2 separate regions of the Homo sapiens genome follow, and region 1 is linked to region 2. A link means that fine-mapping ties the variant in region 2 to the expression of a gene that starts in the linked region. Tissue or cell type: lymphoblastoid cells after a statin. Region 2 holds a variant in brackets; the other region holds the start of a gene. All regions are shown on one strand. Distances are between the middles of the regions.

Region 1 (5,000 bases), 180 kb before region 2:
AATCCTGTGAGTCTCCGGCTTTCTGGAACTTGGCCAGCAGGAGGTGTTGGTGTTTTTCACAGCAAGAAGGAAGGGCGGTTGGACCTGCTCCCCTAAGACGGCCTGGCTTGTTTCCGGGAGCTACGGATCAGTCATGGGAATTTGAATAACCCTTTCTCTCCTTAGGTCCCAGTGACCTGCCGAGTGGGAAGAGCCGTGGCTGGCCGGCCTCCCAGTGGCGACGACGACCTCGCTGTGTTCGTGGCAGCGGCACTCTCAAATCTGGGCACGGTGATGGGAAGGTTATTTGTTGGAATCCCTTTGCCTTTCCAAGGGAAAATAAACACAAAAAGTGAGAAGTCTTGGGGTCTCAGCGAGCGCCAAAACAAAAAACTGGACTCTGGCGGGGATGTGGGCAAGAAGCGACTAAGCGAGGAAGGAAACCAGTTTGGGCCTCCGAGAAATCTGGCAGGCGAGAAGGTTTGAACCGTGATTAAAAAGGGGAAGAACCACAAGTCCCAATTTAAGTCAGCAGAGCTGCTGTCTGGGCAGTGAGAGGGAAAGTGCTTGTGGCTGGCAGATTTCAGCAGCCATTTGGCATTGGCTGGGTACCGGGCTGCTCTGTGGGTGCTGCCTGGCAGCTGCATGGCTACAGACAAGTAACTGTTCTCTCTTGGCCGCAGTGTCCCCAGGTATAAGAAAGTGATCAAATAATATGGGATGATCCATTCAGACTTTTTTTTTTTTTTTTTTTAGAGACAGAGCCTACCTCTGTCTCCCAGGCTCGAGTGCAGTGATGCAATCTTGGCTCACTGCAGTGTCCACCTCCCAGGTTCAAGCGATTCTTCTGCCTCTGCCTCCCCAGTAGCTGGGACTACAGGTGCGTGCAACCATGCCTGGCTAATTTTTGTATTTTTAGTAGAGACAGGGTTTCACCCTGTTGACCAGGCTGGTCTCAAACTCCTGACCTCAGGTGATCCGCTGGCCTCAGCCTCCCAAAGTGCTGAGATTGCAGGTGTGAGCCACTACACCCGGCCTCGTTTAGACTTCATTGACATTCCCCCACCCCACCCCTCTTCCCACATCCTCAGATGCCGTGTGAACAGCTTGAATCCCACACTCCACAGGTCCTTCTCCTCACAACCCTCCATGGCACCCTACTGCCTTCAAAATAATTCCCAAAGTCCCCACCAAGACCTTCAAGACACCATGTGATGGGCCCACCTTTGAAACATCATCTCTTACCAGTATAGGTGTCACCACTGCCTTTATGACTTTATTCCAAAGCACCACATGTATTCCCACCTCAGCACCTTTGCACATGCTGTTCCTTTGGCCTGGAATGCTCTTCCCTCAGACGTTATAGCACCTGGATCCTTCTTGTCATGGAGGGTTCTAAGCTCACATGTTAGTTCCGCAGAGGTGTCCTTCCTGAGCCCTGGATCTAAGACATCCCCTTCCAGCTCTCCATCCCGTAACTGTTTTGTCATTGTCATAGCTGATCCCACTTGCTTATTCGTGCCTTATGTCCCCCCACTAGAATATCAGCTCCACGCAGGCAGGGATATCTGTGTTGTTCACTGCTGTGTTCCCAGCGCCTAGAACAGTGCCTGGAAATGTGCGGAAAGCAGATTTTTGTGGCCTTTTTCTTCAAGGTCATTGGACACCAGGAATCCTGTAGCAGACCGCTCCCTTCCCCCATCTACTCGGAGTCTGGAAATCCCCACCTTCTGGGGAACCCCTTCCTGTAGTTCTAAGGTCAGGACTGGGGCCGATTTGTTTAACACAGAGAGCTTCCTGGAGCCAAGCCTCGAGCTAACTGCTTTAATGCATTAACTCACTTAATTCTCACTGCCAGGAGAGTGGGTACACATTATTTCCATTTCATAGGCAAGGAAGTGGAGAGGTACGGAGAAGTCAAGTCATTTGCCCGGGTAGGAAGAGGGGGAGGCAGTGGAATGGAGACACTTGCTGCCTGGGAAGACTCGAGGTGGCCCCTCCAAGCTGGGGGCGTGGGCGACTTGTTTCCTGTTGGGGGAGGGGGAGAAGAGTACATTCCTCCCTCCCCGCCCTCCCACATGTTGGGGGAGAGGCTGGCTGAGAGCATGTCCCACTCCGGACTAGGGGGAACCCCACTGTCCGTCTCAGCTCCCCATGAGGCCGTGGAGAAAATGTAAGTAGCCCGGGGGCGGGCAGGGGGGTGGGCGCAGAGGCCACGGAAGCCAGCGGTCGGAGAGGGCTTCCTGGAGAAAGATGCACCCCTCCTAGAATTGGGGGACAGGACGGGCGGCCGGAGCGAGGCTGGGCTATACGGGCACCGGCTGTAGCAAAGGCAAAGCTGAGGGCTGGGGCCAGAACCCAAATCGGGGGCCTGGGGCCGTGGCGGGTCGGGTCAGCATGATCGCAGATAGTCAGGGTCGGGCAGGGCTGGGCTCCCTCCCTGGGGCGATGATGAAAGCCGTGGTCGCTATTGCACCGCCCAGCCCTGCGGGCACTGATAAGGCCCTGCAGGAGGGAGTCAGCAAGGGCGCGCCCCCTGGAGGCCAGGCCCCTCGACCCTGCCCGCCCTAGGCCCCGCCCCTTCATCTGGCCCCGCCTCCAGGCGCTGAGGCACCTGGTGACCTGCCGGCGTTGAGTGGGTGGGGCTAAAGTCGCCCCGCCCCTCCGATCCTCACTTCTATCTTCAGACTGTGGGACGCGAAATCGGGTGGGCACGTGGTGGGCGTGGCTTCGCAAGGCCTCGCCTTTTTCCGGACCCGCGCCAGGAGAGCCCTCCGACCCTGGCAGCCGCGGACTAGCGGGATTGGTAGGCGGGGCCAGTCCGGGCTCCGCCCTCATGGCCCGCCCCTCCAGCCGAATCTCCGACTCGCGCGCGGCCTGAGGCGTGGCTCCTGGTGGCCCCGCCCCTGCCCCGCCCCTGTCGCGGCCGGCCTCCCCCGCCGGGCTCCGCTCGCACGGCCGGTTCCTCTTTACATAACGGCGCGGGGCGGCATGGGCCCGGGCCACCGCCTCCGCCCGGCTGCCCGCCCGGACTGTCGCGGCCCGCGGTGGCGACGGCGGCCGCTGCAAAGTTTCCCCGGCGGCGGCGGCCCGGGGGCGCATCCTCCCGCAACTGTCAAGCGCTGGCGGCGGAAATGATGAGGCGCTGGCCATTTTCCGAGCCCGGGTTTCCTGCCTGAGCCCCGCTCGAGCGAGCCGCGAGCGAGGAGCCGGCGGGCGGGAGAGGACGCGCCCAGGGCGGGGGCCCGCCCGCCCCCTCGGGATTTCGAGGGCCCGGGGGCGCGCGACGCCATGGGCCGGCCGGGCCCAGAGCTCCTGTCTCTCAGGTGAGCCCGCGTTTGCCCGCGCTCCCCTCCTCCGGGGCCGGGAGGGCTTTTGTGGGGAAAGAGGAGGCCCCGTGTCCAGTTCTGCCCGGGCTCTGCGCGTCACCCCCAGCCCAAAATACTGCCCTGCAGCCAACTCGGATGGAGGCGTTCCGGGGTGACGGCTCCCAGCGCCTACGACCCCCCACTCAGCCACTACCCCCACCCACACACGTGTTAGGGAGAGCGTTGGGGTAACTGAGGCCGTGGGATGGGGGAGAGGGCATCGCTGACGCCCCCAGCCCACCCTACGGTAGCCTCGCCGGTTGGGGGCGGCCCTCCCCTCAACTTGTGCCTGGGGAGGAGCGGTCAGGGGTCACCCATTGCTACCCTGAAAGTGAAAGTAGTCAAACTGAGGCTGTGAGCACAGATGAGCCCTTGGGTGTGGGGGCAGCGGGGGAGGATGCGCCGGCCCCTCCCCACTCCCCATTCCGGGCCATGTGGCTAAGAGGGTAGCGCCCTGATTCAGGAAGCCCCTCTCCCCAGTTCCTGCACTGCCGAGGTCGACCGGGCCAGGCCCCCGCATGCTGCTGAATTGGGCGGTTCACCAGGGCTAGGCGTCCCAGAGACAGGTTTCTGGTATTGATCCTCTCACACCTCTTGCCTGGGGTTCCCTGGGAATCCCCCGACCAAAAAACGTCTGGAGTGGGTGTTGGTCTTCTAGATCCGCACGGTAGGGATGGTATTTCAGAGGTCTCTGATGCCTGGTGCAGAAATCCCCTTCCCTCCCTTCCCTCCCTCCGGCCAGGGGAGCTTTGTTTTGAGGGAGGGGGACTGCATTTGAGGAACTGGAGAGGAGGGTCTGCCTGCCTGTCCCGCTTCTTTTTTTCTTTAGTTTCCTCATTCTCCTGTTTCTCTTCCCCATTCCCAGCCACAATGATGTAGGTGAGGAGGTCACTGCCTGCAGCTGGGGGCCTCCAGGGAGGGGCACGGCCAGGCTGGGCTGAGTGGGAGGAAGTGAAATCTGGTGGGGGGTTCAGAGCAGAGGCCCCGGCAAGGCAATGTCGGCAAGGCCAGCTTTGGTGGCAGGAGGGACCGAGATCTGACCCGCAGCCCCTCGCCGGGGAGATGACAGTTCCCTAACACCGGCTAGCAGCCAGGCCTCAGGGCCCCTGCCAGGGCAGTGGGCCTGTGGGTCTCCAGGGATGCAGGCGCAGGTTGTGTCTGGGTTTCCCATCACTGACCTGGCTGCCTGAGTGGAAACAGCTCTGGAGGCTCCTCGGGACCTGCCCTCGTGGAGGGAGAGCCGTCAGAGGCCACCTGGGCAGGCTGGGCTCGGAGGATGAGAGCCAGGGCCTACTGGGGGAAGTTGGAAGGGTTTTTAGTGCACTTTTCCTGAGCCTTTTCCCACTACCCCCTCTGGGAGGGAAAATCCTTCTGAGCCAAAGGGTGAGCATTCCTAGAACTTTTGTGAGTCCCTGTGGGCCACAGAGCGGCCAGCTGGGAAGGGGCTGGCTCAGAGCATCAGCAGCTGGGGGCTCAGGGTCTGCAGGGGCTCAGCAGGAAGTGGAGGAGGATAGTGAGGAGGGTCCTGGAGACTGTGCTTTGCTACTCCTATTGCCTTCGTTCAGCTGAAGGCGTGGGCAAGTGACTCTGCCCTCAGTTTCCCTCTGTGTAAAATGGGGGAGTAACAGGTTTGCAGTGGAGATTTAATGAGCC
Region 2 (5,259 bases):
AGAGCTTAAATTTTAGTTACTGAAGAGTGAACCATGGCCAGGCACGGTAGATCATGCCTGTAATCCCAGCACGTTGGGAGGCCCAGGTGGGCGGACCACCTGAGGTCAGGAGTTCAAGACCAGCCTGAACAACATGGCGAAAACCCCGTCTCTACTAAAAATATAAAAATTAGCTGGGCATGGTGGTGGGTGCCTGTAATCCCAACTATTCAGGAGGCTGAGGCAGGAGAATCACTTGAACACAGGAGGTGGAGGTTGCAGTGAGCCAAGATCGCACCATTGCACTCCAGCCTGGGCAACACAGCAAGACTCCGACTCAAAAAAAAAAAAAAAAAAAAAAAACAGTGAACCATGATTCCAGCTTAGACTGGAGTTGCCAGATAAAATACAAGATGCTCAGTTAAATTTCAACTTTAGATAAATAACTTTTTTCTATGCAATTTAATACACAATTATACTAAAAAACTGGTCAATGTTCATCAAAAATTCAAATTTAACTGAGTGTCCTGTATTTCTATTTGCCAAATCTGACAACCCTAGCTTAGATATAACCTCAAAACTCTTTCTCAATCCTTTTACTGCGTTTCTCTGGCTCTAAAGCAGTAACTTTTTTGACTATATCAATAAAAAATTACTTAAAAAAAAATTTTTGGCTAGGCACGGTGGCTCATCCCTGTAATCCCAGCATTTCTGGACACCAAGGTGGGTGGATCATCTGAGCTCCAGAGTTCAAGACTAGCCTGAACAACATGGCAAAACCTCATCTCTTCAAAAAATACAAAAATTAGCCAGGCATGGTAGCGTGCTCCTGTACTCCCAGCTACTCAGGAGGCTGAGGTGGGAGGATCGCTTGAGCCCAGGAAACAGAGGTTGCAGTGAGCCGAGACTGCACCACTACATTCTAGCCTTGGTGACAGAGACCCTGTCTCAAAAAAAAAAAAAAAAAAAAAAAAAAAAAAAAAATTCATTGAACTGTTGCTGCTCGTGGCAGAGCAGGACTAGTCCATAGGCAATGTGCCCAGAGTTGGCCAAAAATTACATTTTGAATTACAATGCGGTATATATACATTAACTCAAACCAAAGCTTAAAACAATTCTTGGCAGCTGGGTGCAGTGGCTCACACCTGTAATCCCAGCACTTTGGGAGTCGAGGTGGGCAGATTACGAGGTCAAGAGATCAAGACTATCCTGGCCAACATGGTGAAACCCCATCTCTACTAAAAATACAAAAATTAGGCCGGGCACAGGGGTTCATGCCTGTATCCCCAGCACTTTGGGAGGCCGAGGCAAGTGGATCACCTGAGGTCAGGAGTTCAAGACCAGCCTGACCAACATGGAGAAACCCCATCTCTACTAAAACTAAATACAAAATTAGCCAGGCATGGTGGAGCATGTCTGTAATCCCAGCTACTCAGGAGGCTGAGGTAGGAGAATCACTTGAACCCGGGAGGCAGATCGGGCCATTGCACTCCAGCCTCGGCAACTAAGAGCGAAACTCCATCTCAAAAACAATTATTTCAATAATGCAATGCATCCTAACACTTCTTATTCTTTTTCATTTTTCTAAAAATGCTTGTCATAATCCACTAATGTGTTTCACAATCTACTAAGGGGTCATGATCTGCAGATTGAAAAATACTTCTTTGGGAGATATAAAAAATCATTTAACCTGGTGTTATGAGTCACCATTATGAGCACATTAACTAACTACACTGTGCTATAAAACAGTAATGCCCTTAGGGCCTAAGATATACAGCTATAAACTTACAGTCAAAACTCCCAGGCCGGGAGTGGTGGCTCACGCCTGTAATCCCGGCACTTTGGGAGGCCTAGGCAGGTGGATCATCTGAGGTCAGGAGTTCAAGACCGGCCTGGCCAATATGGCAAAACCCCATCTCTACTAAAAATACAAAAATTATCCGGGTGTGGTGGCGGGCACCCGTAATCCCAGCTACTCAGGAGTCAGAGGCAGGAAAATCGCTAGAAGCTGGGAGGCAGAGGTTGCAGTGGGCCAAGATTGTACCATTGCACTCCAGCCTGGGCAACAGAACAAGATTCTATGTCAAAAAAAAAAAGCCAGGTGCGGTGGCTCACGCCTGTGGTCCCGGCACTTTGGGAGGCTGAAGCAGGCGGATCACCTGAGGTCAGGAGTTCGAGACCAGCCTGGCCAAAATGGGGAAACCCCGTCTCTACTAAAAATACAAAAATTAACCCGGTGTGTGACCAATATCTGTACTCCCAGCTACTCAGGAGTCAGGCAGGAGAACTGCTTGAACCTGGGAGGCGGAACTACAGTGAGCAGAGATGGCGCCATTGCACTCCAGCCTGGGTGACAAGAGCAAAACTCCATCTCAAAAAAAAAAAAAAAAAAAAAAAAAAAAACCTCCCAGAATGGTATACTTGTTGAGCTCTTGTGTCTGTTTTTTAGTAGTTCCCATTTTAGTAGTTCCCAGGCTCTTTGCTTTGTTTTTTTGAGATAAGGTCTCATTTTAACGCCCAGGCTGGAGTGCAGTGGTGCAATCATGGCTCACCTCGACATCCAGACTTAAGTGAACCACCTGCCTCAGCCTCCCAAGTAGCTGAGACTACAGAAGTGCACGACCATGACTGGCTAAATTTTTTGTATTAATATTTTTTGTTGAGATGGGGTTTCCCTGTGTTGCCCAGGCTGGACTTGAACTCCTGGGCTCAGGTAATCTGCCTGCTTCAGCCTCCCAAAGTGTTGGGATTACAGGTGTGAGCCACCATGCCCAGCCACCAGTCTTCCAAACTTTTTTTTTTTTTTTGAGACAGAGTCTCACTCTGCTCTGTGGCCCAGGCTGGGGCACAGTGGCACAATCTGAGCTCACTGCAACCTTCACCTCCCGGGTTCAAGCGATTCTCCTGCCTCAGCCTCCCAAGTAGCTGGGATTACAGGCGCCCGCCCAGCCCCAAGTCTG[GT/G]TTTTTTTTTTTTTTTTTTTTTTTAGACGGAGTCTCCCTCTGTCGTCAGTGCAGTGGCCCGATCTCGGCTCACTGCAACCTCTGCCTCCCGGGTTCAAGCAATTCTCCTGCCTCAGCCTCCCGAGTAGCTGGGACTACAGGCACACATCACCACGCCCATTTAATTTTTTTGTATTTTTAGTAGAGATGGGGTTTCACCCTGTTGGCCAGAATGGTCTCAATCTCTTGACCTTGTAATCCGCCCTCCTCAACCTCCCAAAGTGCTGGGATTACAGGGGTGAGCCACCACGCCCGGCCCTTTTTCTGTTTTTCAGTAGAGACAGGGTTTCACCATGTTGGCCAGACTGGTCTCGAACTCCTGACCTCAAGTGATCCACCCTCCTTGGCCTCCCAAAGTGCTGGGATTACAAGCGTGAGCCACCGCACCCAGCTAAGTCTTTCAACTTTCTATCACGCTACTGTTATTTCTCATTGCTGTTAATATATCTGCCTCTGAAAACATTGCTTTTCTACTTGCTGCCAATATGTACATCAGAAAAGAAAGCTAGATAGAATCATGTGTAAAGTAAAAGTTCTCAAAGAGGCCATAAAGAACTCTCCAGACCAGAGGCTAAAGCAGGAGGACAGTTTAAGCCCAGAAGTTGGAGGCCAGCCTGGGCAACATAACAAGACCCCCATTTCTACCAAAAAAAAAAAAAAAAAAAAGAACTCCCCTTTCTAAAATCTGCTCAAGCTTCAGTGAAAAGACATTTAGTCTTCAATTCCTGATTTCGAAATGTGTTTCAGGAATGAAAATAGTTAACTGCACAAAGTCCACAGCAAATGTTTATAAACCCGAAAAGAAAAATGCAGTACTTGTTTCAAAACCCGCCCTTTATAAAAAACTAAAATTATAATCAAGATTAATTCCACTTAGAAAAATTATTAAGAATATTTTAACATGACTTTAAAAAGCAATATGAAAAACGTCAATGAAAAATATTTGACCTGGCCAGCCACGGTGCCTCACACATGTAATTAAAGCACTTTGGGAAAACTAGGTGGGTGGATCATTTGAATTTAAGAGTTTGAGACCAGCCTGGGCAACATGGCTAAACCCTGTCTCTACAAAATATACAAAAGCCAGGCATGGTGGCATACACCTGTAGTTCCAGCTACTCGGGAGACTGAGGTAGGAGGACTGCTTGAGCCCAGGATGTTGAGGCTGCAGTGAGCCATGACCATACCACTATACTCCAACCTGGCCAACAGGGTAAGACTCAGTCTCAAAAAAAAGGAAATTTAAAAAAAAACTGATCATTGGCAACACTGTTCAATAAAGCCTCTCAAGGCAATGGTTTCAGGAGACCAACATTCTAAAGTTCTGATACAGTTAATAAAAATAAACCACGTTCACTTATATTGCCGACAAGCCTCATACCACAACTAATGAGTTTTACAAAGACTTCATTATAGAATGAAATTTTATTACATTCCCAAAATGTAGTTAGCTATTAATCATGGCACGAAACTGACATTTTCGGGCTGGACACAGTGGCTCACACCTGTAACACCAGCATGTTAGGAGGCCTAAGTGGGGTGGATCACTCGAGGCCATGAGTTCAAGATCAACATGGCAAAACTCCACATCTACTGAAAATACAAAAAAACTAGGCAGGCACTGTGGGGCGCACCAGTAGTTCCAACTACTTGGGAGGCTGAGGTGGGAGGATGGCTTGAACCCGGGAGACAGAGGTTGCAGTGAGCCGTATTTGCAACACTGCACTCCAGCCTTAGCAACAGAGCCAGATCCTATCACAAAAATAAATAAATAAATAAATAAATAAATAAATAAAACAAATTGACATTGTAAAGTCACTTGACACAACTTCAGGGTTAAAATTACAAGCAATCTATGTAAGAATCTTTAAATGTTAATGAGAATTTCAAATTTTCACATGAATGCAAACACAAATAATTACCAGCAAATAAAAAGTTAAGGTTGCCAGGCATGGGAGGCCAAGGCAGGTGGATCACTTGAGGCCAGAAGTTCCAGACCAGCCTGGCCAATATGGTGAAACCCCATCTCTACTAAAATACAAAAATTAGCCAGGCGAGATGGTGCGTGCCTGCAGTCCCAGCTACTCAGGAGGCTGAGGCAGAAAAATCGCTTTAACCTGGGAGGCAGAGGTTGCAATGAGCCGAGATCGCACCACTGCACTCCAGCCTAGGTGACAGAGCGAGACTCCGTCTCGGAAAAAAAAGAAAAAAAAAAAGTTAAGGTTAACAGCTGTGACAAGTTTTCATAAACAACCCAGACTCATAAAAAAAATACCAAAC

Which allele goes with the higher level. Alleles are on the strand shown, and positions count from the first base shown. SD is a standard deviation of normalised expression in the study named.
In carriers of allele G in region 2, the expression in lymphoblastoid cells after a statin of the gene that starts at base 2,951 in region 1 tends to be lower than with GT alone (large effect, 1.1 SD a copy in CAP).

What was found. PIP is the estimated chance that this variant, and not a neighbour inherited with it, causes the effect.
Region 1: it holds the start of SH2B3, and the variant in region 2 is fine-mapped to the expression of SH2B3 in lymphoblastoid cells after a statin (CAP, PIP 0.95). The same link has a PIP of 0.9 or more in lymphoblastoid cells.

What each region holds. Positions count from the first base shown.
Region 1 is chr12:111,402,973-111,407,972 of GRCh38, forward strand. SH2B3 (SH2B adaptor protein 3) reads left to right here and starts at 2,951. Exons shown (of 8, transcript NM_005475.3): 1 at 2,951-3,305. It overlaps LINC02356 (long intergenic non-protein coding RNA 2356), which reads left to right. Exons shown (of 4, transcript NR_187522.1): 4 at 166-338. RefSeq lists an enhancer at 158-407 and silencers at 2,430-2,589, 2,710-3,289.
Region 2 is chr12:111,583,449-111,588,707 of GRCh38, forward strand. The region is part of intron 1 of ATXN2 (ataxin 2); the gene reads right to left. Among named protein-coding and RNA genes, the nearest start is that of ATXN2, 13 kb to the right of the region's middle. The variant GT/G (reference allele first, on the strand shown) is at 2,940.